Homo sapiens: one gene and its partner. The protein of the gene in region 2 purifies or fractionates together with the protein of the main gene of each other region. This does not show direct contact. Each region holds a gene or a part of one and is shown on either strand. Other genes may lie near its edges.

Region 1 (3,974 bases), on a different chromosome or scaffold from region 2:
GTGCTTAAAATTACTGAGACTTGATAGTGTTTAAACTACTATAAACAGACTCACTTGAATATAAAGAGATTTTCGCTTGATTTTAGATAAATGAAAAAGATTTATAAATACGGTAAAATTTTTATTTTGATTAATGTGGAAATTCACAATACCTTCTTTTACACCCAGCAACATATTTTATTTGCACAAAACAATACATTCAAACATATTTGCTTCCTTCTTACCTATTTCATCTTTCCTCATGTCTTTCAGCTTATCCACAGTAAGCTTTTTTTCTTCTAATCTTGTTAGGATGTGTGGTGGTAGGATTGAAAATTGTCTCAAAGGGCTAGCCCAACCCCAAAGCCTCTTGTCAATGACTTTACTAAGATTCAGGAGCCTGTAGGTCATGGTAGGCCAACGTTTCCTCAGAGCAATTTCAAAAAGAGCACGGACAATTCTAGCTGCATTCTAAAAAATTATAGGAGGAGATTGGTGGTTATACCCAATGTGCTTTTAAATTTGTCAATAAATCTATTATTCAAACTCAGTCTGAAAAGAAGTGCAAGTCAAGCTGCATCCTTGAATTGTGGGGCAATATCTTTTCTCATATAATCCTAATTATCTTATTATTTCTACATAAGAATAATCCTATCCTTTATATGTGGATGCTACTTGCTTACTCTCAGAGGGGAAGCCTTATTTCCAAGTTCTTAGAAAGCTCTACCTTCTAAACAGGAATGAAGTAGGAAGAGACAAAAGGCATGCAAAATATTTAGGAGGCTGTTAAGGCATCTGACTATAAGAGACAAGGACGCCTCTTGGTGAATAGTGGAATGATTAAATTTACAAGGCTATTTAGAGGATTAAGGAAGACTGGGATCCTGATAGGGAAAAAAAATAATGAGAGAAGGGTGACAAATGAAATACTGATTAGTGTAGCTACTCATATGAAAGGGCCATACAAATGGCTTCCTATAAACCAAACAATGTGTTAACTTGCTTTACATATATTGCCTCATTTAACTTTTACAAAAATTGCATTTAATTGATATTAATATTATGATTTTATAGATGAATATACTAGGGCTTAAAGAGGTAAAAAATTTGACCAAGGTCACACTGCTAGTTGGTGTCAGAGCATCTACTCAAAGCCAGGACTAAAGGACTCCAAATATAACTGAGATTCTAGACTCAGTGGTCTGAGGATAACTTTATTAATAGACATATAGAAAGTTATAATGAATGTAGTCTTTTTCTTCACATTTCTACAGCTAGCTCCCATTTATTTTGCCTCCACTCCTCTATCATTAACTTTGCAGATTGTTTTATTAAAGATTGTTTTTTAAATGAACTTATACCTTCCAAAATCCAGTAACATCTGTATTTGAAAATAAAGAATGTTCAGTCTGGTTAAAATCCAAACAAGAGATACAAAACTGAAAAGATTTCAAATGGCAGACAAACAATCCAGCCTAAAATTATGAAGTCAAAAATGACAGATGAGTTAAAGGCTTTCATTTCACATTTTATATAAGATATGCGCTGTCTTTTGATAAATTTGACTATTTTGTTTCAGTATTAGAAATTAAAGTACAAAATGGTAGATAGAAGTATGAGGACAGTTCTGATATCCATTAAAAATGACTGAATGGGTCTTTATAAGGCCCAGAGAATAATAAATAAAATTTTGATTACTGTATCTACCAAATAGGTTTTCCTACCTCATTCCCACTTGTTCTTACAAAAAACTATCAGGCTAATTTTCCTGCCTTTGAAAGTATGTCATTTTAATATTTCAGGATCTACAGTTATCCCCTCAATGCTAAAAGAAGTAGGAGAAATTCCATATGACAAGATACAAACAGGACATGTTAATCTAGAATGATATAAATTGGTTCAAAATAATAAGTCTATAACATGTACAGTCTAGAAAAGTTAAGCATAGGCCTTTAAATAAAATCCTAGAATATTTGAGCTATAGGTTTACCTTAGGGGCTGAGGAGAGAAAGTTTAAAAAATATAGAAGAAAATATCATTTTACAGAGTTGAGAGAGTAGTTGTTCAATTACTGATAGCTTAAACTTAAAATGTAATAAAGTATAATTTATCTGATGCATTCAGGGATGCTAAATCCATAATGGCTGTTTAAGAAAAAACAGGGATGCTTTGAGATATCCTTAATCAGAAGTTGACTTCCTGGATACCAATCATGAAGAGAATTAAAGTTTTACATTGTAAGCAATTCTTATGTCAGTCTCTGATAATATCTTCATAATCTTGAAGCAAGCAGAAATGTTGCCAGATTATTCATCCAGAACCCAGTAAAACTTTACCTTTTATTTAAATGATTAACTATTTCAATATAAAATCATTAGAAAATATAAAATGACAATATTACATTACTTTACAGAAAAACAGATAAAACAAAGGAGATTAGAAAATTATTCCTATAGAAGCTATAGGGTTTAAAGAATATATAAATATTTTCACTACATCTATATTAACTTTATATAATTTATGAATTATATAACCTGGTATCTTGGTTACATTGATTAAATTACTACATGCATTCAAAATGTTTACCAATATGTCTTGGTTTGTGTTTGTAAATATTCCATGTTTAAAGGACTCCTGAGTACTCATGGCTATTAATAATGATATATTTAACACAAACATTCTTTTTCTATATTTAGTCTTTCTTTGAACAAAATTACAAATATAACAGCAGAATCATTTCCATATTTAAAATAAAATTAAGCTTTAATTTCTTCTTAATTTATAAAAGGAAGTACTCAATAAAATAAAATTAAAAAGCCTTGACAGGTAAATAATTTTTTTAAAAAAGTATGTCTAGAAGGGAAATCTTTCATTTGAAGGATAAATAGGGTAAAATATAACCTACTTTACTTCACATAAGGGCTTGAATATAAAAACACAAATATTTGAACAGTTTATACCATGGTATTTTTTAAAAGTTATAAATTAAATGAGCTGTAGTTTAGGGAATAATTTTCTTTCTGTCCTCAATGTTTAAGTTTCAACAGTAGAGAGGAGAGATTACTTTTGTAAAAACCAGAGACATCACACTGAACGTATGGTAGGAAATATGTTTACTACGCCTTGTTTAATGATTAAAAATATTATTATTTCTAATATTTGGTAAAAATCTAAAAAAGTTCCACAATCTTTTCTTTATGCTTGCAATATTCTTTAACTTTTCTCTTTATAAGTACTTTATATTCTTTTACTTTATAAGTAAAAGAAATGAAATTCATCATTTAAAGTAGAAAAAAATCAGGTATCATTTTAAAACTTTGTAAGAAACATCAACATCACCAAAAAAAGCCCTATCAGTCACCAAATCTCATCCCCAGTCCTGTTTTATGAGCATAGATTACATAAAATATTTACAAATTAGCAGAAACAGTTCTAAGTAAAATGGTGGTTTGGTAGCATGTCACAAAGCAATGCATTCATAGCACAGCATGAATTAACACCTTGGTCCTCTAAATATATTCAAGGAAGAGAAAACTGGAAGGGAATAAGATACTTACCTGTGCAACATATGCAGAATCTGATATAAGGGAGAAACTGTCCATTTCTCCTCGGCTGATATAAGTTTGAAGTAAGATGTTTATTTTCCCATAACTATTCTCTACACCTCCAGGAGTGGAGAGTTCACAAAAATTGCTTAATAAGGTATCTAACTCCTCTATTTCCTCTTCTCTGACCTAGAAGAATCAATGTATTTATTGGAATTTTGGGGCTGATTTATTTAAATTTTTCACATTGAAATTAAATACATTGCATGTTTTTAAAGAGTTTCCATTTACTATAATGCAGCATTTTTCTTTCATAGAGTTAAATAACAATGATTTTTCCATAGGTAGCTAAAAAACTGCAATATGAAATGATCTTGAGGCTGATACAATTACATTTTATTATTCATCACCAATATTAAATTTGCCATTGACATATAAAAATTTGATATG
Region 2 (3,512 bases):
CGCCTGAAGCCTAGCTCACCTGGCAGGACACTGCACCATTGCGTTCAAAGAGACAGTGAGCATGGATGTGGCAGGGGCTGTGGGCTGGGCTGTGGCAGGTCCGGGCTGGGAGGCAGCCCTGGCTCTGGTTGCCCAGGAAACCCAGGCGGCAGGGACCACACTTGAAAGAGCCCTAAGAGTGGAGAGGCAGCATCTTAGGAAGGAGGGTGAGCCCACCAGGCACCCAGGACCAGCACTGCTCCACCTGCGGAGTGTGGGCTGGGCACTCAGTTATGCCAGGCATATCAGTATCTCCTTTAGGTTATCATGACAACCTTTCAGGGTGGATAACAGCCTCAGTTTTCAGATGAGGAAGCTGAGGCTCAGAAAAGTTAAATAACCTGCTAAAGAGCTAGCAAGAGGCAAACCAGTATTCCAAACCAAGTCCATGTGAACACCTAATCTGTGTAGTGCCCTGGGGAGGAGGAAAGGCAGCAGGAAATTTGAAGGTAAGAAGGGGCGGGGGTTGGGGTTTTACCATTCCCACCACCCCAGAATACACTCAGGATATTCAGCTCACCACAGTGTTGGTGCAGATGGAGTTTGGGTCACAGCCACCATTGTTGCCATCGTTGCATTCATCGATGTCATTGCAGACCTGAAGGGGCAGACTTTGGGTGGAACCAGACCTATGGTGGGTCTCCTCAGATACAGCAGAGGACACTGGTATGGCCTTATCTGTGAACATCAACATTAAGCCCAGACCCAAAGCCGATGCAAAGCCATCCATGTCCCATTCATCACAAGGGTCCCATGTCCAACCCAGAAGCCCCTGGCCTCTACAAGGCCAAGATCCCTTGTCCACACACACTACCCAGTCTGACCTGTTTGCTGGCCCGGGCATAGTCAATGCCCACACCAGACACCTGTGTGCCCTTGTACCCTCGAGGACAGGCCTCACAGTGGAAGCCGGGCATGGTGTTGATGCAGCTGGAGCCCGGGAAACAGGGGTCAGCGTGAGCACACTGGGGACCAGATGAGAAGGCAGAGGTCAGGCCGCCCTCTGGGAAACTCAGGTCCCTGCCTGTGATCCAGGAACCATTGCTCCAGGTCTCCCCTTTGTGCAGCTCTCCCCACACAACTGCCTTGTGCTCCTGGTCCCCACCCCACTTCCCTCGGGGTTCCCTCTCTCCCTCCCCATGCCACTGGTCACCATCTCAAGCCTCCCCTGCAGTTTCCCCAGCTCCTTCCCTGTATGGCCTTCAGTCTTTGCCCCAGGCCTTCTGTCTCTCCCATCTTGCATTTCTCTTGCCTCTGACCTCTCCTAAACTCCAGATTCCTCTCCTCCGGACCAGCATTTATCCCACCCTCTTGGGTGCCTCCTGACATCCTCACCCCAGTTTTCTGTACCCTTCTGGGCTCTGACCTCCCTCACCTCATTGATGTCACTGCAGTGGGTGCCGTTGCCCTGCAGGCCAGGGGGGCAGGGCCCACAGCGGTAGCCTGGGTACTCGTACACTTCCATGCAGTCCACACCTCGGAAGCAGGGATTGGGGCTGCAGTGGGAACGCTGCTCATGGAAGCCTGAGGGGTGGACACAGTCAGAGCTACCCGGTGGTCACTATTTAAGCCACCAGAAGGGAAAGCCAAAGCCATTGGGTGGGGAACGTGGCACGGTCATGTGGAGCCTCCCCTGCTCTCCCACTCACCGCACACCTGACACTCCATAATGGTGTTTCGGATCAGGGACATTTCCTTCACCTGGAGAAGGATGGGGAGGAGTCAGCACTTGACATCTGCCACCCTACCCCAGAATCAGTGCCACCCTTCGCCAGCCCACCCAAACCTGGTCTCGTATATCATCCCGCAGCTCCACCAGGATCTGGTTGAAGAGGGTGAGTTGGGTGACCAGCGCCTTGGTCTGCTCCCCTGTCGGGACCCAGGGTGTGAGGGGTTCAGTACTGGAGCACCAGTCCTGGGCCCTCCATGGGCAATAAGCCAGTACCTGCCACGGCTGCCCACCCCTGCCTTTAAACCTACTACATTCCTGACTGAAGAGGACTTAGTTTCAGGCAGCTGCCAGAGCCTGGGGCCTCCTCCCCGCTCCCCGCTTCCGCTTCAGTGTGGCCTACTCACCTAGAATGGAGTGCAGTGCATTGGTCACTGGAGAGGAGAAGAAAACATAGTCAGAGGGGTGAGGTGAAGTGAAGAGAGGCCTGGTTGGTGAGAAGGAGGAAGGAAGGTGAGGACAGGGACAGGGCTGGAGCCCCAGAATAAAGATGGGGTGCTGGATGCTGGGAGGGCAGAGCTGGCAGACAAGCAGTGCCAGCTCCTTCTATGGGGCAAAAGGCCCTCTAAGGGAGTTGCTTCACAGGAAGTTAGAACCCAAATCCTCCTGGTTCCTAGGCATGGTAGTGGCAGAAGGGATGGACCCAAAGCAGGGCCAGGGCCCCAGTATATCCCCATTTTTTTTTTTTTTGAGTCGGAGTCTTGCTCTGTTTCCCAGGCTGGAATGCAGTGGCGTGATCTCTGCTCACCACAACCTCCACCTCCTGGGTTCAAGCAACTCTCCTGCCTCCGCCTCCCAAGTAGCTGGGACTACAGGTGCCCACCACCATGCCCAGCTAATTTTTTGTATTTTTTAGTAGAGAGGAGGTTTCACAGTGTTGGCCAGGCTGGTCTTGAACTCCGGACCTTGAGGGATCAGCCCACCTCAGCCTCCCAAAGTGCTGGGATTACAGGTGTGAGCCACCACACCCGCCATCCCATTCCCTTCTTCAAGAGCTCTCCCTCAAATATCTGGGAAAGGTGGGTCTTTTATTTAGGTGAGAGCTTCTGAACATCCCTGTCAGAGAGACCAGGCAGATGGGCAACACTCAGAGAAATTGCTGGTGACAGCTGCCAGTGAGAACTATAAAAGACTCGAGACCAGGCCGGGCGCGGTGGCTTACGCCTGTAATCCCAGCACTTTGAGAGGCCGAGGTGGGTGCATCACTTGAGATTAGGTGTTTGAGACCAGCCTGGCCAACGTGGTGAAATCCCATCTCTACTAAAAATGCAAAAATTAGCTAGGCATGGTGGAGGGCGCCTGTAATCCCAGCTGCTTGGGAGGCTGAGGCAGGAGAATCACTTGAACTCAGTGGAGACTGCAGTGACCCAGATTGCACCACTGCACTCCGGCCTGGGCAACAGGACAAGACTCCATCACCAAAAAAAAAAAAAATACTCGAGACCAGTATCTCTTGGTCAGCCAAGGCCAAGCAATTAACCAATTCTTCTCTTAGATCACTTTTTTTCTCGGATGGGTGTATTGGAGATTGTGGAGTCAGGTGAAAGATTTGGAATAACAGGGTTAGAAACCCTAGGAACAGGTGAGCCAAAGGAATGGGTTTTAAGGGAGAGGGAGATCAAGAAGACAGGAGTCACCAAAGGCCACAGGATCCGTGGTCCAATGTCAGCAAACAAGTCTCTGTGTTACCTGCACTGTGGATGGACTCGTCCCCTTGGAATGGACACTCACTCAGGGCTCCTAC

What was found. Proteins that work in one complex are often made in the same cells at the same time.
Region 1: the proteins of THBS3 (region 2) and ASCC3 purify together in Homo sapiens (affinity purification with mass spectrometry; 3 studies listed by BioGRID and IntAct, with this or other methods). This does not show direct contact.

Annotation. Positions count from the first base shown.
Region 1 is NC_000006.12:100,647,002-100,650,975, forward strand, and holds part of ASCC3 (activating signal cointegrator 1 complex subunit 3), read right to left. Parts: intron 3,714-3,974; coding exon 3,537-3,713; intron 451-3,536; coding exon 225-450; intron 1-224. UniProt on the Homo sapiens protein: ATPase involved both in DNA repair and rescue of stalled ribosomes. 3'-5' DNA helicase involved in repair of alkylated DNA: promotes DNA unwinding to generate single-stranded substrate needed for ALKBH3, enabling ALKBH3 to process alkylated N3-methylcytosine (3mC) within double-stranded regions.
Region 2 is NC_000001.11:155,201,398-155,204,909, forward strand, and holds part of THBS3 (thrombospondin-3 isoform 1 precursor), read right to left. Parts: coding exon 3,458-3,512; intron 2,143-3,457; coding exon 2,116-2,142; intron 1,909-2,115; coding exon 1,826-1,908; exon of another isoform or gene 1,741-1,825; coding exon 1,689-1,740; intron 1,564-1,688; coding exon 1,415-1,563; intron 1,005-1,414; coding exon 864-1,004; intron 718-863; coding exon of another isoform or gene 638-717; coding exon 560-637; intron 173-559; coding exon 20-172; intron 1-19. UniProt on the Homo sapiens protein: Adhesive glycoprotein that mediates cell-to-cell and cell-to-matrix interactions. Can bind to fibrinogen, fibronectin, laminin and type V collagen.